7 separate regions of the Homo sapiens genome follow, and all the other regions are reported to be linked to region 7. The links are microRNA targets in miRTarBase. Many come from high-throughput screens and were not tested one by one. Region 7 holds a microRNA gene; each other region holds the end of a gene's coding sequence.
Evidence for each region. Region 7 holds the annotated microRNA hsa-miR-105-5p (UCAAAUGCUCAGACUCCUGUGGU, at 1,465-1,487, shown strand). A microRNA usually pairs through its seed, bases 2 to 8, with sites in the 3' UTR of a target mRNA and lowers its output. Matches are read on the target gene's strand: a 7mer-m8 pairs with bases 2 to 8, a 7mer-A1 pairs with bases 2 to 7 and ends in A, and an 8mer does both.

Region 1 (4,097 bases), not on the chromosome of region 7:
CATTGTTAACTGGAGAAATTAATTTATATTACAAATCATATCTGAAAACATGTAAATGCTGCTAACATATAAGATAAAAATATTTGAATACATTTCTTAAAATGTCTGATTCCTCTACTGCACTGCAGATGAGGGACAGTTCTAGATGTTAACATACATGCTGCATAAAGATATTTTCTCTGATTACTGTATCTTATGTAATTCATTTCCAAGTGATAACTAAATTTAGTCAATCCCAAGTCTCAGATGTTACCTAATCCAGCTCACAAATATTCCACATACTTATTTACTTGGATTGGAGGAAGACAGTTTTATAATAATGCCAGCAGTCTTTAAATTTGTAGTGAAGTTGTGCAATAAAAACAATTGAAATAAGGCCAATCTTTAGTTTATAATACATGCAGAAAATAGTCCAATGCCACTATAGCAGGTCACAAAGGATAAAATTTTAAAAAGCTATGTATCTATTGCCCAGGGCTGTGAGTCTCTGATTAGACTAAATATTTAAACTAATGCTCCACTGAAACTTTTCATCTGGGACTTGAGAATGTTGGAGTTGAGGGAGAGAATACTAGGGTTGGGTACTTAGAAATACCTAAATTGGTTTACACTTTCCATGCATGTAAGAGTTATATTTCTGAACTTTCAGTAAATTGGAGATGTTTTTATTGCTTACCTAAGACAACTGCCAATATTTCTTTCTGGCCTATTAACAGTACATACATAGTGTTACTGCCTCAAAGAGGATTATTTTCCCAAGTGGTAAAGAAAACAAAAATATGGTGATGACTTAAATTTCTTAATTCAACTTCTGTAATGCATAGAAGCTAAATTATAAAAATATAAAATCTAAATATATTGGTATTACTAATACATGTTTAAGTGTTTCGGTTACAAAGAATCTGATCCAAGTTACTGTGCTTTACTAAGAAACCAGTGTCTAATAATGTCCAAATAAGGTCATAAATATACAGTGTCTGTAGAACAGGAATAATACATTTACATGTTATAGGAAAGATGGTAAATACTCATTTCTTTGCTTGAGTTGGAATTAACACATACACTGTACTAGAGGTATATTCCACTCTAAGACTGTGTACGCTCTTCCTTTTTCTGTACACAACTTAAAACTGTACATTTTTTTTACAAAAATTGATTTTATAGCCTATTATTTTTTTCTTAACACAATGCAGATAACATCAGGAAATTACATATTTCAAATAGATTGCCTTCAAAAGCAACTAATTAATGACAAATTTCAAACATACACTATTATTTTCAAGAATGGTGTAACTGAAAGACTCATTTTTCTATACAATCAAGCCATCCATTTCTGCATTATGAAGAGTTTAACTACTGAATTTTAATTTTATAGTTAAATATATTTGTTAGAAAAAAATAAATATACAAAAAACCTGAAAAATTTGAAATTATTTTTCAACTGCAAAATCTCAGCAATGCAGTCAAGATCTGGAAAATGGTTTACTTAATTTCACAGGAGAATTTCTGTACAAATTTAGTTACAAATGATCTAAAAAGCCCAAATGTATCACTTTTTCATTCTTCACGACAGTTAAATGACAGCTAATATTTATCCTTATCAGAAATAATTATGTAATGTATTTTGCCAAGGTTCAATTGCAGACTTTATTTTTCTACATCAGGGTCATGCTGATACATATTTTCCCCATCCTCACTTTTTAAAAATGTAGTATCTGAAAATTTTGATTACATTTTTGTACCATACCAGTCCTCAGAAAATACTACATTCTTTAAATTTTTAAAAAAATGGACAGTAATTTTTAAACAATAGAAATGGTAAGTATGTTGGTTTTTAAGGTATAAAATAACTAACTGTACCATAAACAAATAAATAACTGCTTTCCTTTTCCATAGCAGTACATATAGCAATACATTCTCCTAAGTCATATAGTTATCATTTACAATAGACAACTTAATTTTACTAATGATGCAAAAAATAATAGAATACAAGGCACAATCATTAAATGGAGTTTTTCTTTAGGGTGTATATTGACATACCAGCATGATAAGGATACCGTAAAAAGTGCAGAAAAAACACAATGTGCAATGAGACCACTGTATAAAACATGATTGCATAAAAAGTGATTTGGCCTATTTTAACCTTTAATAATTGAAAATAACCAATTTCCCCCTTAAAATTAAACTATAAAGTATGACATTTTAAAATTATTTTTATTCTACTGCTATCTAAAAAATCCTGAAAAAAGAATTTATACCTGGGTAATAGTATATAAGTATGTGTTTGTATATATATTTAATTATACCCATTTATCAATATATACACATACACACACAGACACGTTTCTTTGTAAGTCATTTTAGGCTATTAGATATGTCTAAAGTTTAGAAATGACATTAATCCAGATCAACAAGTAAACATCAAATCCCATACCTTTTTTCCTGTATTTTCCTTGAATCCTTTAACCACTTAAACATTTCCTCTAGAACATCTCTGTCAAAGGACCCACCAGTGCATTATTTTCTATTAGTACCAAAAAAAGATATATCTCAGCATAACTCTTTAATAACTTGCTCTTTAGAATATATAGCCTTTCCAATATTGAAAAGTGTATGCTGTCCTGACGTCAAAAACAGGCTTTCCACTGCACTGATTCTCAGTCTTTGGCACAATAAACAGAGATTGAGTGATATAAGAATCAAGGTCTGAAAAATTAGACAGTCAAATGTTTTCCAATGTGGATATGTTTCCCTTCATCAGTACATTTTCTCTTGTTTGGCAGAAATGGAATAAAGCAAAAGCCTCCTCTAGATACTTTGTAGATGAACATTCTATAATTAAAATTAAACTGTTTAGGGTATCAAATGGTGGAAATTTTATATTTATCTTTTAGAGGAAACATTTCTTAATTCACTGCTACTCTGTATAACATCTATCTTTTAGGGGCATGACTTGTATCAATAGAAATGTACCTCACTTGGTCAAAAATAATTCATTTTAACATGAAATGCTCTATCACTAGGAATATTATGCTCCTAAAGAGTGTAGCAGAATTGTCTTTTCTATAAATAAATCAGGAATTCATTATAGATCAATTTCTTTCGTTTCAAACAGTGAATGAAATGAATGTGAAAATGCATAACCTATCTAAGGGCAATAAATAGCAAACATTTAAAATATATATGTATATATTTATATATATATATATATATTCATTTAAAGAAGTGAAGTGTCTCGTAAGTTTGTTTTTTTTTTTTTTTTTTTTTTTGCAAATCAAATCATAACATTCCCTACTCCACCACAGCAGCAAGGAAGCAGAAGCCTTAGTTCTACTTATTCCTTAACTGTACCTGCTTTATAGATTTTGAAGTAAAATATTTTGGTACAAGTTACCAACCAATTAAATTAGCTTTTGCTTTTTCAGTCAACTTTCGGACTCGTCCTCTACTAGAAGTTCCAAAAGTTAAAGAGGTGTCTTCGAACAACAGCTGCCTTTGCTCCTCTTCAGAGTCATCCTCATTATAGAAAGCTGTCCTTCGACCTTGATTTCTAGTTCTCATGTGGGGTTCAGAGCCTTTGAGTTCTTCAAACTCTTCTTCCTCATCTATAGGATCATCTATCTTTTTTCGGTTACTTCTCCTTAACACTTTGACACTTGCAGGGACTAGGAGATCTGCATCTAATTTTTGTGTCTTCATCTTCCTTTTGGGCTTCCTACCTCCACGATTCTTTTTCTGTAACAAATCTTCCTTTACATTATTAGTTTCAGAAAGAAAATTGCATGTTGAAGAAGGAAGTACTTCATCTCTGATGGGATGCACATTATTTTGCTCTAAATCTTCTGGCTTTGCATACTGTAGCTTTTTGGGCTTTCTACCCCTTTTCTTGTGTATAATTTCACCACTATTGGTATTAACTTCTACTTTAGGTTTCCTTCCAGGTCCCCTCTTCACAAGTTTTGATGGCTGTCCTCCATGGCCATTTACTTGAATGGTTCCTGGTACAAGAGCGTTGTTCTTACAATCTCCTAAAAGGGAACAACAGTACACTTAATATATGGAGTTTCTTTTTTTGTTTGACTCTCAAACTTGTCAGT
Region 2 (4,000 bases), not on the chromosome of region 7:
CTGAAAAAAAGAAAAAAAATTAGATGACTGTATCACATCAGTTGGGGAAACAGATTGCGATATCAGGCAGCAAAGCGATTTGCCTAGTGGAATTAGCCCCTAACCCTGCTTGCCCTGGTGGTTAACTCACTGCTTTCGCTCCCCACTCTCTAATACCTGTTAATACAAAATGAGAGGAAGGGAAAGTCAGCAGTGGCTGCTGGGAGATGGGGTTAGGGAAGAGGCTGACTAGAGGGGCAGCAGGGGAAAGGGTGCAGCCATGCCACGTGCTGTAGCCTGTTACACTCCGGTATGGCTTTGCCAGCGTTCATAGAACCATCTAACAAAAAGTGAATTTGAAGGTGTGTAAATTATTTTAGAGTTGAATTTCTAAAAAAGAATAGGCCCAAACATCAGTCTGTATTAGGGAGGAATCTAATCTTGGGAGGGGATAGGAAGGAGATGTTTCTGTACAAACATAAATACGTTATCAGTATATCCTATTTGATCAACTTCTTTGATGTGTTTCTTTTGCTGAGTTAAGGATCCATAGGTAGAACTTTTCAGCTGCCTTCTCCACACAGCAAGCCCAGGCAGAGCCGGGCACTGGCTCCCCTGGTGTTTTCTTGCGTTGCTAGGCCGCCCCATCTGTCGGGCTGTAAAACAAGTGTCTCCGTCCTGCAGGTTACTGGAAGAGCTCCTGAACAAGTTCAAGAGTAGCATGCACTTGCAGCTCACCTGTTTCCAAGCAGCTTCTTCAACCATGATGAAAACATAAATATCTGCCACATAAAAGAAGTCCAGGAAAATAACACGTAATAAGACTGTTCACTCTCTAAGTACCCTAAAGGTATTTGGTGTATTAAACATTGGGTTTGCCATTTTTCTCTTTTTTCTTCCTCTGACTTCGAAAATTGTTGGTATACATTTCAACCAAAATGACCTCATTTGAAATGCCCAGGAAGTATTTGTTTTGCCATTCTTACTAGATCAGATCCTGTATGACTTTAAAATACATTTTAAAATATATTTTGCATCTCAGCAGAAGGTTGAGTGCTGCAGGAAGAGCTGCTTCTGCAGGGAGTTTTCTGGAATGGCGTGGCACATATTGAAGCATTTCTCAGTGTCCCGTTCACGGAAGCGCAGGCAGCTCCCACGACACACGGAGAGACTGACTGATACGAGATTTGGAAAGCTATGTAGACATCTTTGGAGCTCTTACTGTCCTAAACTGTACAGCTGTGCTTAAAACCCTCATTTCATATAAATGGCCTTAAGTTTTCTAATTCAAGCGGGTTTTTGGAAAAATTTATGGTCTCCATTAAAATACATATTACAACTGGGGTAGATTATTTGTGGTCCAGGTGTCTGTGATTTAACTTTGCGTTTTGCTATCTGATTTTTATTTTTCACAGGGCTAAGCATGAGCTTTCATTCTCACTCACTCTTAATTTGTCGTGCGTCACTACACATGCACGTGTTGCAGTCCCTGAGGCCCTGTGTGTTATCTGTGATGGAGTGTGAATGTGTAACGGGCACTGTGTTACACTCTGAGGTGTTGGCGGGGCGGTCGCAGACTTCAGGGTCCCCTAACGGAAAGGCCAGGCTCCGCGTGGACGGCCAACTCCCTGCCCGCTCCTTCAGCAGGTGACTGTCTCTGCCACTTCTTACCTGCTGAAGGATCTTGCTCAGTAGCTGGAACAATGCTGCTGTCACACAGTCTCTTCTCTGAAACTTCAGGATGCTCCTTGGTCACCAGGCAATGGGAGCTGTAGACCAGCCGCATGCACTTGCCCCACATTCACTGCTGACTGGCTTCACTGGAATAGGTTCAGGTCACCGGGACTTCTCTCAGAGTCAGCGGCCCACCCAACTCCCTCATACCGTCGCATCTGAAAATTTTCAGAGAGGAATTCTCTTTGTAGTCGGCTTGTCAGGGTTTTCAAGTTTTTCTATGGTTATTTTTAAATCTCTTTTTTTAAATGCTAAAATTAATGTCCTCATTAATGCAAGTAATTTTAGAGCACAGTGTAGCCATGTACAGTTTCCATTATTTAAAATAAATAAATGTGTTGGTTCATTTGGTGTATGGGGGGACATCATGGTAACTGGAAATGAAAGTTTAATCTTTCACAAATGTGCTTGATAAAGCTGTTAAGAATTGTCTTTCCTAAGTATGTTAACTGTTGTATCTAACTCAACTGTGAGCTAAGTTTAAAAACTGCAATCATGAATGTTTGTGATATTTTAAATATCTACTACAGCACATTCAGCCAATAAAGAATCTGCCTTTAATGTAAGTTGTAATTTACTTGACATTTTTCCCTAAGTGTCTTTATTTCAACATTTTCATATTTCTACTGTTAACACCCAAAATACTTACATTCTGGTTAACCCTGTATTGGTAAACACATTGTCAGAAACCATCTGTCAGGTCCTGCTAATTCTGTTTGCTGGGGACTTACCATGTGCGAGGCACACCATGAAGTGCCTCGTTGAATCCTCACAACAGCCTTATGATACATGTGGGCTAGCTTACCGCCACGTCCATTTAGCAGAGGAAGGAATCAGGGCTTAGAGAGAGGTTGGTGACTTCCGTAAGACTGCAAGGCAGTAAGTAGCAGGACTCATGTTCACACTCTGGCTCTGTATGTCCTTGACTTCACTACTGCTCAGCTCTTCCTTCCAGCGGAATATGCTTTCTGACATCCATCCACCTGGGTCACAGCTCAGAGAAAGTTCATCAATTCCAGAGGCTAATAAACAGTAGCAACACGGAAACCGGTAGTGCTTTTATGGCTCAGAGTGGAAGGTAAAGGCCTAAAAACCCCATACCCAAGTGAGGGAGTTCAAGGACTACTATTCCAACAAGTCAGGGGGGACTTCTTGGAAGAAAGGGGGATTTCAAGAGCTACTTGAGTTACAGAACCCTGGTTTAGTGGGTAAGAGGAGATGAATATGAAATAAGTTAGATGAAAGCCGAGAGAGAAACCAGGACCTGGAGCAAGTTAACGAGGCAGCTGAGAAAACAAATTAGGGAGGTTCAAGGTACTTCAGTGCTCCAGTGGCATTTCATTTCCAGCACACCCATGTTCTTTGTGGGTCACAGCATGGCTTCATGTGAGTTAGCTGAGCTGGCCTCACTTGAATGGGAAAGAGCTATTAGAAATCACTTGGTTTTTTACTAAGACTTTCTTTATCAGTGTACCATGAAAGAGCATATTCTAGAAATGATTTGGGCATTGCAAAACAAGCATCATTGCCTTAGGCTGAGCACACTGACTCATTCTCCTGTCTCTTGTCATCTTTGCATGTAGATTTTTTTAAAGGGAAGAAATAGAAGAGATTATATTTTTATTCTGGATTTGGTACAAGGTGGTGGTGTGTATTTCTGTTTTGATCACGTGCTATGGGATATTCTGTTAGTTTCATAAGCGTGTTGTGTAATGTTTTCAGAAAAGTTACAAATTTTAACTAGTTTTTAAATCAAGATTAGGTTTCTAAAAGTCAAATATATTTTATGTAATATTCATAAAATAATTATGCATAGACTAAACTTGCATACATTTTTGTCACTGAACATTTATCTGTTGGTTCTGTTGCAAAGATTTTCATATAGATCTGTGAACTGCTCTGAAAGATATATTTAATATATCACTCCTCAATTAGAGCAGCAGCCATAATTATTTTAGCTTTGCTTTAAACACAGTTGCATATTACTCTATACTAGGGCCATTATGCTTTTTGTGTGCTGATCTCATCTCATTTCTGCTCCCCCAGAGGAGGATTTATTACATTGAGGTTTATTACGTGTATTACTGGAAAGCCTTTCTGTACCTGGCCAGGTTAGAAATATATAGCAATAAACATCTTACGGACAAGACCTGGGTCTTTGGGTAACTTGTTTGCAGTTTGGCTAATGAAAGGCAGTAGGATATCAGAGTGTCTTTCTCCTGTCTAGGCACAGAAAATCCTAGACAAAGTGGGCAGTGAAGCTTGTCTTGTGCCTTCAACAGTGTTT
Region 3 (4,097 bases), not on the chromosome of region 7:
TCAAAAGAGGTGAAGTTGGTGACTCAGTAAAACTTGACATTTTAACCTGTGGCATTTAGATACTTTTTACTGTTTGCCAAAACACTTGAATGTGCCTCAAGAAAAGGTACCTACTACATGCTGTATTGTATGACTGTCAGGATTTTAAGATTATACAAGTGAAGCATTAAAAGAGAAATTCTCAGAGATATTTAGAATATTTGACAATGGTTTGAGAATGTAAAACAAAAAGGAACTAGTTAGAGTCAAGTTTTAAAATTTTTACTTTGTTGAATTTTTTTTTTTGGCATTTTGAGTGAAATATAACTATCATTAATTCTCTCTTCATCTTTGAGATGCTTGGCCATAACAGGGTCCATACACATCTTCTGGTTTACTATATACAAAAACTGTAGTTGAAAAAAGATGACAATTTAAAAGTCAGCCTAAAGAATGTAAAGGTATCTATATACAAAAGGCTACCTTTTCTAAAATCTGTGTGCACATAATTAAAGAGCTTAATTTTTTTTTAATCGTGTGTTTAATTTTACATCAACCATATAGCATATATTTAGCAATATGACAGTCTACTGATTTTGGCTTTGTTAGAATAGAGAATAAGTGCAAATAATTAAATCCTATGGCTGTATTAACAAGGGGGCCATTGATTATAAAACTTGAACTCAGGTCCTTTTATAAACATTGTTGGTATTTAACTTTACTTCCCATTACTGTGGATCTAACCAAATAATTATGTGTTTTGTGTCCCTAAGTATGCTCTCATTTTTTTTGGTCTACACCCATTGGAAGCCTTTTTAATGTGACATCTTTTAGAGGAATTCTGCTGGAATAATTTCATGTTAACGAGGCTAAAGCTCAAGTCTCCCAAATTAAGTGGAATGTTCATTATCCCAAGGTGTTCATAGTCAAAAGTCCCAGTTGATAGTGAAGAAGGCCAGGACTGTAATTGAGCAGTCCTTAGCACCATTTAGCAAACTAGGTTTACTTACTACATAATATAGCTGCTTATTCACAGCATATACAGTGACACCTTATCTCTGAAAAATAATTTCCACGGAGCCACTTAGAATAAAAAAACTATTATAACTAGAAAATTGAAAAAAAAAAAAGACAGTCCACAGTTACATCAAAATGTTTATTTTTTGGATATAGACATTTAAAACATTCATCTCCAAGAACAGCTTCAATCAGGTATACAATAAGAAATAGACTTTAAATCCTAATACAGAAAAGGTAACAGAATTTTTTTGAATGCTGCTGTAGACACTAGTGTTAGAAAAAAAAGTTTATAAATGGTTTTGCACCAAAAAAATATGCAAAGAAACTTGAAAATAGAAATTGTTTGCCATTTGTTGCTCTGGTTGCTGTTTAATATAGACCCAGTGACTGATTGTCTTCAGCACACATCTAATTTGGCCATTTACTGCATTTGGCTAATGTGATCCAAAATGTGATCTAGATAGTGCTTTTCACTGGAGGATTGACAAACACGCTACATACATTAGTGAATCTTCATACCACCTCAGTGAGGTAGCTTAGAAATATTATACAGAAATTGAGGCACAAAGAGGTAAGTGACTTGCCCAAAGTTCCCAACAGCACAGTCCCTGGAAGAGGAGGTAACTCTCCACACAGGACTCATGTGCCAGAAAGCTGGACAGGGACACCCTCATGTAGCATTTAGTAAATACTTAGATAAAGCTGTAGCTGATCCTTTGAGTTTTCAGTACCCTAAAGTAGTAGGGGAAGTCTTTTGGGCAACTCTCCTACCCTTGGCTCTCAACTTTCCTACTGTTGTTCTCTTATGAACTCCTTCACCTCTTTGAAGACTGTAGCAGCCTTCAATGGGGACCAGACCTCTCACCTTTATTCTGATCTGTCATCTATTTGGTAGTTTTGTTTGTTTGAGGTGTGTCCGTTGGACAGACAATGGTCAAAAGCAACAGGATTGGGAAGGTGCCTATCAGGGTAGTAACTGCTTATTTTCTCTGATCAGTTTGTTGAGGTGTCACCTCTCTCATGCTTTTCCAGATAATACAGAAGCAAAAAGGAATTGCCTTTAAGACAAATTCATATTTAAATCCTAATGCTCCATACAGTGTTGGTAAATGATTTCAAGGAATATGTGATCAATGTTATTTGACTTGAAAAAATTTTCTTTCCTAGATGGGGGATTTGGAGCACCAAGGGTAAAAGGTGCCTGCCACAAGAAAAGCTCAAGAGTTGCCAATTATGCTGTTTACTTCTTCTGGTTTAATAGAAGGAAAACACAGTGGTATTAAAACTGGTCATGAGCAGCAAAAATTCAGGAATTAAAAAATCAGCACTAAAAAGACTACAGTATAACTGGATAGAGAATTCTTTAAAAAGAAAGGCATGAATAAAATGGGTATTTTAAATTCTTTCTCCTGCGAGGAATACTTTCAAAAAGTACATAGTAAGACTAAGATACCAAGTTGTATACTAATATTTTTCAGGCCTTGGGCCTCAAATATATATATTTATATATAATACTCCAGTGTGAACAGCAATTCGATAAAATGTAAAATGTATCTTTTTTTTTTTAAATCACACACAAGTATTCATAACCACAGGGTTCACCAGAAATCTAAAGCAAGGAGACACTCACTCATATAGAAATGGAGTTACTCTTCCACAGATCGTTCTGATCAAAGGTTTTGGAACAGAAATGAATTAATGATTTTTTTGTATAATATCCAACATGTCCACTATCAAATACATTTAGTATGAAAAAACAGATGAAGAAAAGGAACATACATTAGGACAAAGTATCTGGTTAAAATGCTGTTCATTTAAATAAAGCCCACTCTCCTTACTTTAGAGCTCCTTGGTGAAATGGAGGTGAGTTTGATGGAGTGCAGTTGATGACCACTGAAAAACACGAGCCCTTTCAACAATGTTGCAACACTGTTAGTTTTTGGTTTAAACACACACACACACTCACAAATGCTAAGTGTACACTACCAAATTCTGCGGTCAGCTTTTCCAAGAACTACTGGGGAAAGTTTCAATGCTGCAAATCCTCGAGGTTGCCCTAACACCCCCACCTTGTTTCCAAATGACTCATTTCACATTTTGTTTTGAGCACTGGCAGTATCCCTTTACAATGCAGAGGTGCAGTGTAGCACAAGTGCTACATAGCTGTAGTTTTCAAACAAAACCACTTATATCATTGTGCTTAAGTGGAGACTGTAGTTACAATACTGACATTCGCTTACTGGCCTTGTATTCTCTGTAAACAAGGAGGCTGTTTGCAACAACCACTTCAACTCTATTTACAGAAGGGTTCCCACGGTATACACACAGGCACAAGGGTTGGTATGCTTTCTAAAAGCTGTGCATGTGCCTTGGTCTCTTAAAAAGACAGTGCCCAAAGTGGAACCTATGTGCAAACAACAAATTAACGACACAGAGTAGCTCAAGCAGCCATTTTGCTCCCAAGTCGTCTGAAGAACTTTGCCAGATTAAGCCAGGCCCCAGAGTGCTTACATCCACTTGCATTTCTTCTTTTCATCAAATAAGACTTTTACATGCAAGAGTTGTTTCTGAGCTTCTTCCAGCCCTCGTTCTCTTTCTAGTTTATTTAGAATCTGTTGACAATTAGAACAGTTATTTTAGATATTGTGGTTTTAGCGTTACAATTCTGTTTTTTGCATACCTGATGCTGTGAGTGGTAAAATCTGTATGAAACAGATGCCAACATTTTCTTCCATCATTTACATACTCACTTTGCAAGTTGTTTTGCTAAGTCCTTATCACAGGATCAACAATACCTTGGCTTAAAATAGAAGCTCGCAAGAAATACCAACTATTTGCTTACAAATATGGGGCCAGGCTTCCTAGGCCCTGCTTTATGCATTATGTCACAGCCATTCCAAGCACAGCAAGCATTCCTGGGCAGCCAACATGCAGGCAAGTATTTCTCCTTAAATGCAGCAGGCAGGGACATCCTGGTCAGAGACAGATCCTTCCCTTCCCTCCCATCTGGGCAGTGTAGTCCCTCCTCGTGCTTCCCTTCTCTCCCCTGACCCCTGGAACGAGGGATGCTTATCATGTTTAAGAACTCATTGCCTCTA
Region 4 (4,097 bases), not on the chromosome of region 7:
AAGTATCAGCAATCATCTTCAAGCACAGACACCAACAGCTTCCAGAAATACCTGTACTTAAGAGATTCTTTATTGGAAAAGCCAATAAGTGCCAAACATTTTAGTTTCAGAATGTTGTCTGAAACATCACACTAGCACAGGATGGCTCTCCTTGTGTAGCTGGAACCAAAGCAGGAGATTGAACATACACCTAATTTTGAATAATCCCTATTTTGAGGAAACTAAGAATATACTCAACAGGAATCCTTAATAAATCTCCACTTATATCACTGGCTTGGTATTTTTTTCAGCTCATTCAATTGAGTATGCATTTTATAATACCCAAATGTAAAACTTCATTATTTAAATATTCTAGAAGCTTATATCTCTGTTATTCAAAGAGGCAAGTATGACTGGTTTCTTATTGGCTATGATTCACTACGAAATATTTAACTTTTGGCTAGAGCATCATCCAAATATTCTTTATACATTTGAACTATCTAAATTTTTATAAGTTTCACAAATGCAGAAATTTCTGCAGAGGAGAGAAAATAGCTTTCTTATTAGGGTGAAATTTAAAGAAAAATACCATTTTTTTTAAAAAAAAGAGGATGTTGCCTGACATTTAAGCACATTACAGGGCAGACCAGAGAATGCTCTGCCAAATATGATTTTCTTCTTTTTCAGGGAGAAATGAGTTCTGGTGGCAGAGCGGCTGGTTGGCTGTCAGGTATCACCCAATGGGAATCAGAGAGAGTTATGAGCATAAAGAGTCCTGGATACCATGAACTAGACTCAGTAGGAGGAAGTCAGAGGCTAGTTTGCAGTATTCACAGGTTTCTTCTTGTCAAGAGATCAGGAGACTGGGAAATTAATAAGTTACCTGAAAACTTGGGCAGGCAATTATATACATATATGAATCATTTGAGGGTAAAGGGAACAGAGTTATACAAAAGTTGTGGTGACATCATTGTATATTAATACTACCAGGTAAATGATACTAGAGTTTTTTGAGGATGTTTAAATTGATTGTATTATAGATTAAATGCATGGTGCTAATACTGGCATTGCCAGTTACTAAGACAAACCATTCTATTTAATGAAGAAAGTTTCAAAAGCATGCAGCAGAAATATAACTTCCACTGAAGACAAATAACATGTATTTAAATGGATTTTTAAAAATTTTATTTCCTAAATAATTATTTTTGACTAGAAGGATCTAGAAATTTGTGAAAATGATAGGTTTTTTTTTTTTTTTTAATTGGTCAACTTCATTCTATAGATTGAAGGTGTGACTCAATCCCTAAAATCTGAGATTTGCAACCTATTCCAAACTGAGCACTCAGGATTACCCTCGTGGGTGTCAAGTGCCTAAGGAGAATGTTCCATGTTTGCTAGAATTAGAAAGGGGAGGTAATAATTCTTAGGGCCTAGAGAAGGTTGGGCTAGCCCAATGAATATTTTCTTTTTTGAAGTAATGGATTATTTCTGAATAATTCAATATTATGTTAGGAAACACTTTATTCCAGGTCAGTAGAAGGTTGTCTACCTAAGTGCCCAGATGTTAAATAAGAGTAGTCTGTCCCATAGAACAACATCACATAGCTCTTCAGAAAAGACTTCCAGAAAATCTGAGTAACTTGAATGAGCACTCTTGTTGAAGGAACAAATTCGCAAATGGACCGGACTTTCTAATGAACCATTTGAACAGCCCTCTCTTTGACATCAGATTTCCTTCCCGACATAAAACTGTAAAAAAATAAACTGAATTATTACTTCTGTTACAGTGCCATTTTGCTCAAAATATTTTATTCAGGGATTCATATATAATTACCCACCTAATAAAAGGAGCTATTAGGTTGTAAAGATCCTATCCCTTCCATGCTCTTTTAAAATTATGACCTACTCAAGCTTGAAATCAAAGGCAGAGCTGAAAGGAATAATTCAGCTGAAACTCTCTCATTGGGTTTTCAAGTCACCTAACTGATAAATATGCAAACTAGCTCCCTTTTGGCGATTCAGCTGCATAAACAGGGATTAACTCCAAATGCAGCTGAAAATTCAGAAACTAAAATGCTGCATACAAAATGTTCTTAATTTTAGCTAGTTCCAAGCTGTAGATAAACATGGCAATAGAAGTTTAAAACTGTAGTCCACAGTTTAAGATGCTGCTTTGAAAAGTATCTGCTGGATTTACATGTCGGAAGTGTCAGGTGGCACCTGCCCCTCTGCTTCCCCCTGACTCTGACACAGGTGTAGTGTAAAAGTTTCCCTTAACAAAAGGGTCTGGTGGCCAATGCTTGCCAACACTGACCCTGTAGGCAGAGTTGGCATTCTTTAAGAGAAGGTACTGTTAGAAGCTACCTTTTATTTTCCTTCTCTTCCTGCTCTCAGGGAGTCTGCCATTTCTACGGGATTAGAAGACAGGCGACATTGGCCAGTGCACCATATGACATGTGGAGCTGGCCATTTCACCCAACGCTAGTTGCCAAGGAGAACTCAGGGAGGGATGGGGTGAAGGGGTGGGGGCATTCTTCTGGCCAAACTCCTAAGGAAGATGGCCTTAGTGAAGCTTTGAAATTGTATCACAGTGTGGTATGGCACAAAAGCCACCCAAATTGAAAACTGTCCTATTACAAGCTTAAGCATATAATTACCATGTGTCTGAGAAGATTGCATATTATATCCTCTTTCCAGAAATGTACTGCTGCTGGCAGAATGCCACTAGTTGCAGATTTTTATATTCCTGGACTCCAGACATACATATTAACCAAGGGTGGATTTACAAATACTTGCCAAAATAGGTGAATTTTTAGCCACTCACTAATATCCACCACTTGTGCAAGATGAATGACTGAGTTACAAACATAAGCATTCTCTGCCTTTTGTTTGTTTACTATTTACTTTTTGTGCTGTAAGGAAAACATCCAATCCTTTGGTGCTATGGCATGAGAGATTCCCATGGGTGCTTTGTATGTTTAAGTTGAAAACAAAATAGTGAGCTTGCACTGGTTTGCCATGGCATGGTACAGGCTTAAATAATGCACTTGCATTTTGTAAGACTAGACCTACACATTAAACAACAGGCCTTGACAAAGGAAAACATAGGTATTAGTTATGACAGTGTGGTCACTGCAGTGACAAAGGCCCATGACTATTCTAGCAGCTTAAACTTTGACATTGCAGTGAAAATGCATCTTTGCTTTTGTTTAGGGAACTCATAATCATCATTTGACAATTCCTGATGCCTGTGAAAGAAGGAATGCTTATTCCTTCTGAACTGCTTCAGGATCTTCCTTAACTGAGTGGTCCTGATGGGTGACCTGTACACTGGTTAGAGTTCTTGGACACAGGTGTGCTGTTTATGGGTAATTGGTATGCTGCAAAGTTCCCGGAAAATTCACCTCATCCATTCAGAAATACATGTTAAAAGGCTGAGCCTGTGATGGCATTAAGCTGCTTCATGAGTCCTTCCAAACTTGCCATTTGTTCACTCAGATCATCCTGTTCATACACCTATAAAGAGAATGAGAGCCAAGAGTTAGTAACAAATATTGATCCATTTCTTTTATGAAGGCCGGGGCCACAGCTAGTTGGGGTGCTACGTATTCCCAAGTCTGACCTAGGAGACCACAGCCAGGGCTGTCCTTGGAATATACTCACTGAATGAAGATGCTGGTAATAAAAGGGGATAATAAGAGATTGCATATTGTTTCACCCACTCCATCTCCACCTGTGACAAGGAAGATGTTTCAGAGTCAAAAAGATTGGGTTTCAAATCAAGTTCTCCCAATTATTAGCTGTGTGGTCTTAGACAAGTGAGTGCACCTCTCTGATACGTAATTTTCTTCATCTATAAAATGATAATGACATCTATTTCATAGGCTATTCTGAGCCTCCTGTAACATGTTTAGTACCCATGATAGGGTCTGGCATATGGTAGATATTCAATACATTAGCTCCTGTTCCTCTTACTAGGTTAACCAAGATATGAACAGAATATTTTTTCTCTGTATCATGACATAGATACATTTTTTTTTGTATGTGAGAACTCAGCGGGCTTTGCCTTGGCCAATGAAACGTCTGGAGATTATGACTTTAGTTTGTGTGTGGAAACA
Region 5 (4,097 bases), not on the chromosome of region 7:
TCTATAAGTAGCAATTAAAGGAGACTTTCACATTTTACAGCTCCTTCCCATTATCATTGAATTAATCCTTATCAGAAATTTGGGATAGAAAGGGGCCTTTCCTTGAATGTCCTATAAGCTACTCTCTTCAAGTTACTTGATGGGATAATGAATGGAATCTGTTGCTTACTGACTCCACACCTATGTTAAGCCAAGCTTCTCTTTGTGTGTACAGGTACAACAGAATAGCTCGGGAATGGACTCAGAAGTATGCGATGTAATTAAAGAAATTATTGGATAACCTCTACAAATAAAGATAGGGGAACTCTGAAAGAGAAAGTCCTTTTGATTTCCATTTGACTGCTTTCTATGAGCCCACGCCTCATCTTCCCCTGTGCACATGTTTACCTGATACAGCAGTGCTGCGTGTTGTACATACTTGGAACAACAAACTAGAAATACTGTACTTCTGTACCAACATTGCCTCCTAGCAGAGAAGTGTGTGTGTGACAAGCCAGTTCTACAGGCATTACCTAGGTGTGAGACTAAAAGCTTTTCTTATTGACTTAAATTTGGATAACAGCAAGGTGTGAGGGGGGTGGTGGGTATGGTGTGTGCTTGGATGGGAAAGAAAAGGCTCCACTCACCTATAGGAGATTATTTTTAAGTGGAATCCATTTAAACTCAAAACAGTTATGAAAAGCAAGGTGAAGAACATGAAGCTGTGTCTGTATTCATTTTATTCCGAAGGAGCTACGTCTTAGGTGAAAGTTATGACCAACCAGATTAAACTCTACCCACATCCTGCATTTTAAGGTCTAAGTTTAACTGGTCAACATTTAAATGGATTGGAGCTATTAGTACATCAAGTGTGATGGGCTTTGTTCCCAACTCTTTTACATCTCCCTACCCCTTCAACCTTTGGCCTTTCAGCCCTTCTTTCTCTCTTCCATATTCTTTGGTTTGTATGTGGTTTCTCAGTTAATACATAGCTAATAGCTCTTATTTTTCTTATGTTTTTAACCGCTTAGGTCTATTTGGATGTAAGGGTGAAAATTCATTTGATGGAAATACTTGTGTATATTTAAAGACCCAATTGCTCCTCTGGAGCTTGTACTTTCAAGAATGATTAATCTGTGTAATAAACTGGTTACTACAGTCATTACATATAATTTTGTGTGAATAGGCTTTTTCATTTTTAAGAAGTTTGTCTAGCTGAGATTAGTGGTGGATTTTCTCCCACTTCTGAAATGTTCATTTATACTGGTTGCATTTTAAGATCATGAAACAATTCCAGTTACATTGTAAAAAGGATATCTTACGAGTAATTTTATTGAACAAGTTAGAGGCATAAGCTTAAGAGCATTTCCATGAAACAACACATGCAGCATTCCAGGAACTTGATTGTTAAATTCAATAAGAAATTTGCTTTATTAATGAAACTAAGCTGCATTTCATCAAAACCTTGTGACATTCCCTTGGTACATAGGACATAAAACACAGAGGCATTGCTATTTGGTAAGTTAAGCTTCTGTGATTGTAATTATAAAAGAGCAACATTGACCAAACCTGGGAAACAAGAGCACAGTCTTGTTTGGAGAGTCTACATAATTACTTTGCACTAACATTTGCAGGATGTTCACACAATTTTAAATTGTACTGTATGTGGCTTTTTGAAGTCTTCCCTTGACCCTAGTAAAATATAGCTTGAAACTTGTAAACAACTGTGTTTGCCAGAAACATCATTCATGTGAACTAGGCAAGTTACCTTTTTTCCCCCCTTCTTTTCCTAATTGTAAACTAGGCCAACCTGAAAGCCATGGCTGATGCTCTAGCCATCAGGTTCTTTCAAATGCATCTTTACACTCTTGCACAAAAGTTAAGGAATAAATGTCCACTGCTTTTGGTTTTAAACTTGTTCACCTTGTCTTATCTCTCACTGTCACTGCTCCTCCACCTTGGAACTTGTGTGATAAAACCCAAAACCTCTTACAGTTCTCTTATAAGCATTTCAAGCATCTCTTATTAGCATCCTTGACTTTGCAGAAAAGGCTTAACTGTTAACAGTTGTGGGGAAAGGAGTTAGAATTTAGCTTAAGCCTAAAATCACCCTGTATTCTCAGTATTATGGGCAAGTGGGACTTCATCTTTTTTTTTTTTTTTTTTTTTTTTTAAGAGAGGGACAGGGTCTCATTCTCTTGCCTAAGCTGGAGTGCAGTCGGAGTCATGACAGCACAGCTCACTGCAGCCTCAACCTTCTAGGCTCGAACAATCCCCCTACCTCAACCTCCCAAGTTGCTGGGACTTATGGTACATGCCACCACACCTGGCTAATTTTTAAATTTTTTTTAGAGACAGGAGTCTCACTATGTTGCCCAAGCTGGTCCTGAACTCCTAGGCTCAAGTGATCCTCTTGTCTCAGCCTCCCAAAGTGCTGGGACTAGAGACAGCCACCATACCCAGCCTTCCATCAATTATTGGCTTGCTATTAACTACATACTGTTGACCGTGGGTCAGTTGCACAGATCCTGAAAGCTCATTCTGTATTTGCCTGTCATCTTAGAGAGCAGCCAGCTTATTACCATTTATTAGATCATAATATGGATATTTTCACAAGAGTGTTCTTAAGTATTTTTAAGTGCCAAATGAAAGCCATCCTCCAGGTGTGCAGGTGCCAATTGAAGGGGTTTGGATGGTCACAAACAACATTAGGCCCTTGAATGGGGTTTGGTCTTGCCCATTTGAGTATGAAGCTTCTTTGGTCCAGTCTGTGTATATGTGCCTGGCCAGAAAGAAAGCCCAGTGAGAGAAGCCACCTTTCCCACTCACCAAAAACAACAACAACAACAAAAAATCCCTCAGGGTTGTTTTCATCTGGACCACATTGCTCTTCACAGAAGTTTCTATGACTTTGTCGTATGTAAAATCCAGTCTGTAGCAACCTTGATTATCTTGGAAAAGTTACAGGAGAACGTCAAGTGTATGGTTTCCTTTTGTTTGCTTCTTAATAGCCCAAAGTACTTTGTCAAGTTAAAGCTGGGGCAGTGTCTTTTGGTAAAATGAAGTCACTTCAGATACTTATATGCTTTGCTATTGGCGAATCAGTAGTCAAAGGTATCATTGTCCTGCGAGTTTATGCACTTTGAGTAGTACAGAGACTTGGAAGGAGGGCGGTAGGGGTGGGGAGAGAGAAGTTAGGAAGGTCTGTGAAGAGAAGGAAAAGGTAGTTGTCAGAGAGAGACCCTTTCTCTACACTAACCTAGCAATAGAGGCCTTCTTTTTCCACTTCCAACTGCTAAAATACTCTGCTTTCTGAATCATTCCTCTTTGTTTCAACAAGTTATTTTGAGACCTGGGTAGCTTGTCAGGAGAAATGGATTATTTCTAAATTATGGCTGGAATGCCTATAAACTGTCCCTTGTCTGTAATTAAGGTGAAACTCTGGCTTTGTCTCTGTGTGCTGTATGGCACCCCTTAACTACCCAGGGTAAGTTTTGAAGAGGAGAACTCTCAGCTGGGCCCTGTGGCTCATGCCTGTAATCCCAGCATTTTGGGATGCCAAGGTGGGCGGATCACCTGAGGTCAGGAGTTCAAGACCAGCCTGACCAACATGGAGGAACCTCGTGTCTACTAAAAACACAAAATTAGCCGGGCATGGTGGCACATGTCTGTAATCCCAGCTACTCAGGAGGCTGAGGCAGGAGAATCGCTTGAATCCGGGAGGCGGAGGTTGTGGTGAGCCGAGATCGCGCCATTGCACTCCAGCCTGGGCGACAAGAGCAAAACTCAGTCTTAAAAAAAAAACAAAAAAAACTCTCTTCTCATTCCCAGGTCTTCAGGATTATAAACACATCTTTCCTTCCTTCCAAATCAGGAGTAAGCATTTTTATTACTCCTACAGAAAACTGTAACTAGTGTTAGGAATCCATCTCCTTTTGATTTCCTCATTTTCCCTTTATGAAACACTATTTCAAGTGATGGGTTATTTTGGTGAGTGATGTTAGGCAGGAGAAAGCAGGTTTGTTTTTTGTTGTTGTTGTTTGGAGACAGAGTCTCACTGTCGCCCAGGTTGGAGTGTAGTGGTGCGATCTTGGCTCACTGCAACCTCCACCTCCCAA
Region 6 (4,000 bases), not on the chromosome of region 7:
CAACCTGGGAAAGATTCTGGGACTCGGGGGCCACTTGTAACCATAACCAAGAGCTGTCTGAAGGCAAATCTACAAGTCAAGGTGCAGTGAAGTCTCCAAGTAAGAAACCTGTCACCCTCTGAAGTGTGTAGGCTTATCTACTGATGATGAGCTATCAAACAAGGAGAGAATACATCAGCGCAGCTCCCGAGGCCTTCTGAGAATTTCACGGGACAGAACTGGGCCAAAAGGAAGAAGACTGTTTGCGGCAGGAGGGTAGCAGAGGAGCAAGTGGTAAACAGAAGACAGATAGAAGGCAGTATTCTTCAGACCCCCATACATCACTGAATGACAGCCCTGATGAGGAAACTCAGGCAAGTAGAGTCTTTTATTGGAGAAGAAGGGTCTTTGCGAGCAGGTGAGGACTTGCCTTCTGAACTGTGCGGCAGGGTGAGCATCCCAGGTGTGCTGGCTGGGGGCTTGCATCCAGCACCCCCAGCAAAAAAAGCCAGGGTGAGCTGGGAGAAAGACGGGTAGTGGGGAGGGTTTACGGCTGCTTTAGAAGAGATAGTTATCACTGAATTACCATATTTCAAATTTTGACATGGGAATGTCTTAAGATCATTATTAGATAAAATTAAACTGACTTTATTAAACAGAGTCACTTCAGGCCTTTTTCTTATGAACAGAGTGATCCTTAGTCGGGTAACATGTCAATGACAGTGCACTCTGTGCCTCTCCTGCATTGTGGGGAGGGCACTTCTTAAGGCAAAGTAAAATTCAGGACCTGCATGAAATCAGTTTTGCTTCCATTTGAGTTCGATTTATGCTATTAATAGTTCTGATCACCAAATTTATAACATTTAAAGTACTGTCTGTTACCCGATGTCTGGTATGTTTACATAAAACGTGGTTCTGCCCAGTAACAGCATAAGGTAAAAATGTGATTTCCCCTAAAATTATAACATCATGTCATCCTAGAGTGTTACCCACCTGGGAGAGGTACAAAAAACAAAGCATTAGATTTCAGGCTAAGAACAGCCAGTTTTAGGAGTAAGAATTACATCGAATAGCCTTAAGAGCATTTAAAAAGTCAAGGCATCTTAAACTTCAGAAATGAAAACAAAACCAAAACAAAACAACAACAAAAACAACCTAACCCAACCACAAAACTCTAGGAGCCAAGGCACTCAGTATCTGCCTGTTGGTTATGTACAAAGCCACAAATGGGAGGTCTTTTCAAATTAATCTGGAAAATCCAAGCACAAGACTCTTAGCTTGAAAAGCCTGACAACTCTGCCTCCAAATCCAGGCAACTGTGCTTCCACTCCTCTTCTTGCTTGCCTTAGGAAAACTTCACTTTAGTAAGATAAGGCAAAACAGAAAATAAAAGAGTCGTTTAACCAAACTCCAAAAACAAACAAAAATAGAAAATAAAAAACCAACTTCCTACAAGTATACTTGTAAAAATATATTTTTAAAGCACCCCTAAGTAAACACCAATCTTGCCCAAGAAAAATCACAGGTTTGGGGCCTATCTGATAATGACTGTCCCGGAAGTCTCTCTTTTTTGAGACAGTTTCACTCTGTCGCTCAGGCTGAAATGCAGTGACGTGATCTCGGCTCACTGCAACCTCCACCTCCTGGGTTCAAGTGATTCTCCTGCCTCAGCCTCCCGAGTAGCTGGATTACAGGCGCCTGCCACCACACTCAGCTAAATTTTGTATTTTTAGTACAGACGAGGTTTCACCATGTTGGCCAGGCTGGTCTTGAACGCCTGACCTCAGGTGAGCTGCCCGCCTTGGCTTCCCAAAGTGCAGGGATTACAGGCATAAGCCACCACACTCGGCCCCAGAGGTCTCTTTTACAACAGCACTAACCAACAGACTTTAGTCCAATATGGTTAAGAACAATGAATCTCTGAAATTTCAGAGTTGGCAAACGTTTAAAATAACGTATAAGAACTTGGGTGAGGTTTTTCTCCCCTATCTCTTTACATACACACCATAAATAAGAACACCCAAGTCCATGTCCCTGGGTGCTGGTAAAGTGTTCTAGATAGTGTGAATCACAGTCACGATAAAACCATTTTCTGAAGGTTTCGAGGAGATATTGGATATGCAAATCAAATGTCCTAAACACAGCAGAAAAGATGACTCTTTGGGAAAGGAGATTCAAAATTCTCTTTTTTTTTCTGTTTGAGACGGAGTCTCGCTCTGCTGCCCAGGCGGGAATGCAGTGGTGTGATCTCGGTTCACTGTAAGCTCCGCCTCCCAGGTTCCCGCCATTCTCCTGCCTCAGCCTCCCAAGTAGCTGGGACTACAGGCGCCCGCCACCACGCCTGGCTAATTTTTTTGTATTTTTAGTAGAGACAGGGTTTCACCGTGTTAGCCAGGATGGTCTCGATCTCCTGACCTCGTGATCCACCTGCCTCGGCCTCCCAAAGTGCTGGGATTACAGGCATAAGCCACCGCGCCCGGCCCCAAAATTCTTTCATAAAGAATGAGACAAACCAGCCAAGCACGTTAAAGTCATTGAGCTTTCGGGGGAAAAATCAGATTTTTCCGGTGACTCGGGGTAAATGTGGGGACTTAGAAAGCTCCCCCTAGAAGGCAAAAGTAGAAGCTGAAAGTGTCCCCACTCTTGACTGTCCTGCCTTGTCAGAACCCTGCAATCTGTGACACCGCACAGGAGCCAGTGGGTTTTGATGACTGGTGTGTTGCTCTCTGCTGGAATACATCTGTGGGGTCAAGAAGCGGGAGGAGGAAATGCCTGTCTCAACCACTAACTAATTTGCCTTTATTATCTTTTCCTGAACATCAGATCAATTGTGGAAGAACATAAAATGCAAAACATGAACTTGCAGAAAACAAGAGCCAATCCCATTTCTCTTCTGCAGCTGCACTGGAAATGTGCGTCAGCTCAGTGTGTCACAGCAGAGATACACGTGGACGGGGAAGCACAGCAGCTTGCAGGAAAGGCCTGGCTGGCAGAGAGCACCCAAAGATGAACACAATGAACAGTGAGGGTCTCACGCGAGGTGGCTGGGGCTGAGTGGCTTTTGGCGACTGATGTCCCACATCTGAGTGGAGAGCAGAGGAGAGACTCCTCCAGCTTCATCAGCACTGGCATAGGCTTGATTCCCATCCATACCCTTTCCAGCACAGACGTGCACAGACTCTCGTGGCTGCCACAGTGCGAAAGCGCGCCAGCCACCACTGCTCCTTTGAGTGAGACACTGGTTGTGTAATCTGAACCTGGCTGGATTTGCTGTTTAAGAAAGAAGTGAAGAGGATCCTTTTATTTTCCCAAACGGGGCCTCATGGAAGTTCCACGTTGCTCCTCCCTGGCCTTCCATCTCCACTGCACAGTGAGCAGAGCTAGGCTTGTCTGTGGCAGCTCCGCCACGCCCTGTCACCTGCAGTCACTAGTAGTAGGGCCCTAGCTTTTCATATCCTAAGTAACTTGGCCACTCTGGAAACAGACCATAGGAACACCGAGGGCTTCCGAACTGGTCAAAGGATATTCCCAAATCCGGTCCACTGTGGGGCTTGGTCATTCCCTGGGTAGATTTTAACTCAGCCCGGATGATCCTATAGTTCTTGCCTCTGTTGCTGTCCCAGTACGTCTGTCCATTGCACTCGTAGTACACAGCAAACTCCATTCTTTCATAAGACTGAATCTTCTCGGGCAAGCTGATGTCGAAGGAGAACGTGTCCCTGTCTGAACCGGCATAAGTGTCCTTCACGTACTGACAAGGAAAGTCTGTGTAGCTCTTCCAGGTGTCGAACGTCATCCTTATTTTCACGGTCTTCTCAAATGCGAGGTTCTGAACCTTCACAGTGCCTGCAATGGCCTTGTCCTTGAGCACACAGTTCTCAAGGCAGACGTGGTCGGCCTGAAGTCGATTTCTAAAGTCTAAGTAATCTGCAGAGGGCTGGGAAAAATCCAGAACAAAGCTCTCGCTCTCTGCTGTCGTCAAGCTCACAATGTTGTCTAGGAGCTCGGTGATGTTGAATGG
Region 7 (4,097 bases):
GATATCTGGGTGTACATCGTGGTTTAACAGTCAAATATTAGTGTTAGTTGCTCATGCACCATGATTGCCTGAGTATGTGCCATGATATCTCCTCCAGCATCATTGTCATATGCTGTTTGCCTAAATAAGTTGTATTCATGTGTTATGTTTCCTTTATTCATATGTCCTGTCCATCTGGGCATATTCCTCATTGTGTTATTCACTCTTGTATCACACCCACCTGCTTTTATATTGTAGGTTTTTGCTCATGCACCATGGTTGTCTGAGCATGCAGCATGCTTGTCTGCTCATACCCCATGGTTTCTGAGCAGGAACCTTCATTGTCTACTGCTTTACAGGGAAATAGTGTTTTATGCATCGTGTATATGAGTTTAGTATTTACTCATATTCTATGACTCTCTACTCTTAGATCACTTCTGCCTTTTTCTGCACATTGTTTATCTGTTCCAAAAAGACAGATGTTATCTCATGTCACTGGGCTTTCTAATTGTACATCAGTCAAATGCTTAAATGCCTATGATGTGATGGCTGTTCATGCAACATGGCTGTTTCAGCATATATCATAACTTCACCCGTTTAATCATTGCCATCTTCTCCCAGACTAAAGAAAATAATGATTTTTAATCACCAACCATATCCGTTTTGGTAATCATGGTTTCATGTCTACCTGCTCCTGTATCATTCTTTTACTTTATGTCGTGGGATTGTGTAGGTAGCCATCATAGTCAAATGCCCAAATACTAGTGGTGGCTGTTCATGCAATGGTCATCTGAGTATATGGTGTCAGGTCTCTTTTGACATATCTGACATCTACTCATGGACAAAGCTGTTTACCCCTGTACCGTGGCTCTTGTATAAGGCACAATATCTGTCTAAGTAAGCACCACAGCATGGTTTTATTCTCCGAAAACAAGTTTGTGTGCTGTATCTATCTATGCCTCTTAGCTCCTTTGGCATAAATGCTACGTAATAGTGTAAACTACTTTTGTGTACCTGTGTAAGTCAAGATCAAACAGTCAAATATCACTAATGGCTTTCATCAACTTTTGTCTGAACATGTTACACGGTGGGTCCTCTATGCACCTTTGCCACCTACATTTGAAATAATCATTCATGTATTGAGATGTTTTGATCTTGTACTATATCCATCTATGAGGTCTCCACTTATGATTATTTTCTCATAAGATGTCTCTTGGCTCTAAGTGAGCCCTGGCTAATTTTCCATGGTTGTATGAATGTGCTTATGCCCTTTAGCTATGGTCTTCTGCTCATTCATCATGATTTGTGAAAATGCACCATCGTTGTCTACATTGTACTAAAAATGGAATTTTCTGTACCATGAATATAATTTTGTGCACCATGATTTTTTGTCATACAGTGTGTTTGCCTCCTTCTTCGTCCTCAGTATCTACTCCTATATATTGGATGTCAGCTTCTGTTGCAGAACCTGAGTGTGCATCGTGGTCAAATGCTCAGACTCCTGTGGTGGCTGCTCATGCACCACGGATGTTTGAGCATGTGCTACGGTGTCTACTTTTGCTACATTGCCGTCTGCTTCTGGACCAAAGCCATTTGTTCCTGTGCTCTGTGTTTCTAATCTTGTATCACATCCATATGAGGAAGCATGGCACCATCAGTGTATGTGCACAATGCTCACTGCTTGGACTTAAATCCCAGTTCTCCTATTTAATAGTTTGAAATTCTTGAGGAAGTCATTTCACCCTTCTGTTTCTGTTTTCTAAACTGTAAAATAAATAATAATACCTCATAGAGTTGTGAGGATTCAAAGATGCACATGTAGAATGCTTAGATTAGTGCCTGACACATATAAATGATAAGTATTTGCTGATATTGTTATATTATTTGTATTATGTCTCTTTATTCTTTATCATGACTTTTAGCTTGCATTCTGAGAATGTCTGGTTGTGTACCTTAGTCACATGCTAAATTACTGGTGGTGGCTGTCCATTCAGCATGGTCGTCTGATGTTATACCTTGGTTTTTCCTTTTGCACATATACCCTTTACTCCTTTGGCAAAGTCATTCATTGCTGTGTTGTATTTCATTATTCATCGTGTCTTTCTGAGAAAGAATAGCACAGTAGTTGACTACTATTCTATTTCCACCTGTACCTGTATCATAATTGATAGCTCACCTTTCAGTGTATATTGGTGTGTATTGTGGTTAAATTCTCAAACACCAGTGGTAGTTTTTCTTCCATGTGATCATTGGAGCGCATGTCATGGTGTCTCCTACCATTGCCATCTCCTCCTAAACCAAGGAATTCTTTCCCGTATTGTGGCTTTTCGATTATATATTGTGATCATCTGTACAATTTCAACTATGTGGCTATTTTCTTTGTGTCATGTCTGTTTTCTTTTATGTGTAAGTATTGGCTCATTCTCCATGGTAGACTGAGCACGCGTAAGGAATTTCTGCTCATATATTGTGTATGGGGTTGTACTATAGACTTTCGCTCATACACTATGGTTGTGTAAAAATGCAGTTGTCATTGTCTACTCCTGAACTGATAAAAGGATGGAATCATCTGTATCATGAATAACAGTTTGTTAATTTTGACAGTATCGTGTTTGCCTGTGCTTCTGCCATCCTGAATGTCAGTTCATATTGCAGGATTATCTGAGTGTGCCTGTGGTCAAATGTTCTGACTATTGTGACTGCTCATACACCAAGAATGTCTGGCAATGGACTATATATTTATTTATGCAACAGGAATTATTGTCTCTATCAGCAATATAGCCATTAATTCCTCTGTTAAGCATGTGTTTTTTAATTTACCATATCCATTAGAGGTAGCATAGCACCACTGATATATAATAAGGGTAGACTGCATTATATACAAATCACTTTTTTTTGTTTTTCCCTAAAATAATAACATCTACCTCATATGCTTGTTTTTTTAAAGTGCTTAGTGCTTGGTATGTAATAAGTTCTAAATAATTATAATTTTTAATAATATCCTCATCATCGTTATCATCGTTATTATACTAGAATTTTTTCTTCATTCTCTATCATGGTTGGCAGCCTATGTTCTGGGATTATCTTGGTGTGTGTTATAGTCTAATGGTTAAGCACTGGTGGTGGCTTTACAATGCACAAATGTTGTACAACCATTTGCCTTGATGTCATCTATAGGGCCATTGCCATCTGCTCCTGGACTATTTCATGCCATCTTATTTTGAAAATATTGTACCATGCCCCTCTCGGTAAGTACCAGTCTATGGCTTTCTTGACCTACCATTTCTAATTTTTCCTCAAACATACTTGTATGTGCATCACCATAGTTATCTAATGTGCTCACATACCATGGTTTTCTGCATAAGGCATAATTGTGTCTACTGTTGTAATGAGATAGCCATCATTCATGTTATTGAAATAAGTTTATATATCAAATTTATTTCATTTGAATTCCCTTTTTATGGTTTCCTGTCATTGCTGTCAGTTTCTGTATCACATCCTTTAGCTCTGTGTCCTTACTCTCAGCATACACTTTATAGTTATCTGATTGATGACTTTGACGAGCTGAGAGAAGAAGGCTTCAGACGATCAAATTACTCTGAGCTATGGGAGGACATTCAAACCAAAGGCAAAGAAGTTGAAAACTGATTGTATATTAGAAGTTCAAACACCAGGAATGTTTGTTCATACCACATTGCTATTTAAATATATACTGTGTTGTTTTACTTTTTACTATTGCCATTTACTTTGCCCCCAAATCTTTGTTCCTGTGTTGTATTTTTTTAATCTCAAATCTTATCCATGTGAACAAGCTCTAAACGATGTCTCTCTGCTCCTATATTTTTTTTTATCATTTACCATGCTTCCCTTCCATGTACCATATATAAAAAATCACAATTTTCTAAGCATGAGCCATTATAGTTTGATCCTGCACCGAAAATGCCATCTTCTGTGTATTGGACTATGTATTAGCTGATGCATGATGGTTTTTAGGTCCGGCACTGAGGTATTCTTCCCCTCCATCAGTGTTGTCTCCTTCTATATCATCTTCTCATAACATAGTCAAGAGCTCATTTTGCAGTTGTCTTAGGGTACATTGTGATCATATGGTATTCATG

Region 1: miRTarBase lists PHIP as a target of hsa-miR-105-5p. Seed matches in the 3' UTR shown: 7mer-A1 at 2,862-2,868 and 7mer-A1 at 2,723-2,729.
Region 2: miRTarBase lists EXOC2 as a target of hsa-miR-105-5p. Seed matches in the 3' UTR shown: 7mer-A1 at 925-931.
Region 3: the mRNA of PLXNC1 is a reported target of hsa-miR-105-5p. Seed matches in the 3' UTR shown: 7mer-m8 at 2,965-2,971.
Region 4: the mRNA of DCC is a reported target of hsa-miR-105-5p. Seed matches in the 3' UTR shown: 7mer-m8 at 2,024-2,030 and 7mer-m8 at 500-506.
Region 5: miRTarBase lists UBE2D2 as a target of hsa-miR-105-5p. Seed matches in the 3' UTR shown: 7mer-A1 at 333-339 and 7mer-A1 at 1,038-1,044.
Region 6: the mRNA of PPP1R3B is a reported target of hsa-miR-105-5p. Seed matches in the 3' UTR shown: 7mer-A1 at 2,105-2,111.

What each region holds. Positions count from the first base shown.
Region 1 is chr6:78,937,303-78,941,399 of GRCh38, forward strand. PHIP (PHIP subunit of CUL4-Ring ligase complex) reads right to left here. Exons shown (of 40, transcript NM_017934.7): 40 at 1-4,028. The coding sequence ends at 3,391. It also overlaps a transcript of IRAK1BP1 not described here. Among named protein-coding and RNA genes, the nearest start is that of IRAK1BP1, 72 kb to the left of the region's middle.
Region 2 is chr6:483,428-487,427 of GRCh38, reverse strand. It overlaps EXOC2 (exocyst complex component 2), which reads left to right. Exons shown (of 28, transcript NM_018303.6): 28 at 664-2,274. The coding sequence ends at 757. Among named protein-coding and RNA genes, the nearest start is that of IRF4, 94 kb to the right of the region's middle.
Region 3 is chr12:94,304,695-94,308,791 of GRCh38, reverse strand. It overlaps PLXNC1 (plexin C1), which reads right to left. Exons shown (of 31, transcript NM_005761.3): 31 at 1,117-3,611. The coding sequence ends at 3,507. It overlaps CEP83 (centrosomal protein 83), which reads left to right. Exons shown (of 17, transcript NM_016122.3): 17 at 1-1,094. Among named protein-coding and RNA genes, the nearest start is that of PLXNC1-AS1, 130 kb to the right of the region's middle. RefSeq lists a silencer at 2,865-2,964 and an enhancer at 3,579-4,097.
Region 4 is chr18:53,529,962-53,534,058 of GRCh38, reverse strand. It overlaps DCC (DCC netrin 1 receptor), which reads right to left. Exons shown (of 29, transcript NM_005215.4): 29 at 1-3,495. The coding sequence ends at 3,406. All of the region lies in intron 2 of LOC124904304, which reads left to right. Among named protein-coding and RNA genes, the nearest start is that of LINC01919, 36 kb to the left of the region's middle.
Region 5 is chr5:139,626,542-139,630,638 of GRCh38, forward strand. It overlaps UBE2D2 (ubiquitin conjugating enzyme E2 D2), which reads left to right. Exons shown (of 7, transcript NM_003339.3): 7 at 215-1,893. The coding sequence ends at 260. Among named protein-coding and RNA genes, the nearest start is that of CXXC5, 20 kb to the right of the region's middle.
Region 6 is chr8:9,137,388-9,141,387 of GRCh38, forward strand. PPP1R3B (protein phosphatase 1 regulatory subunit 3B) reads right to left here. Exons shown (of 2, transcript NM_024607.4): 2 at 1-4,000. The coding sequence ends at 3,407. Among named protein-coding and RNA genes, the nearest start is that of PPP1R3B-AS1, 2.0 kb to the right of the region's middle. RefSeq lists an enhancer at 3,102-3,601.
Region 7 is chrX:152,389,655-152,393,751 of GRCh38, reverse strand. It overlaps MIR105-1 (microRNA 105-1), which reads left to right and starts at 1,453; the gene lies at 1,453-1,533. The region is part of intron 1 of GABRA3 (gamma-aminobutyric acid type A receptor subunit alpha3); the gene reads left to right. It overlaps MIR767 (microRNA 767), which reads left to right and starts at 223; the gene lies at 223-331.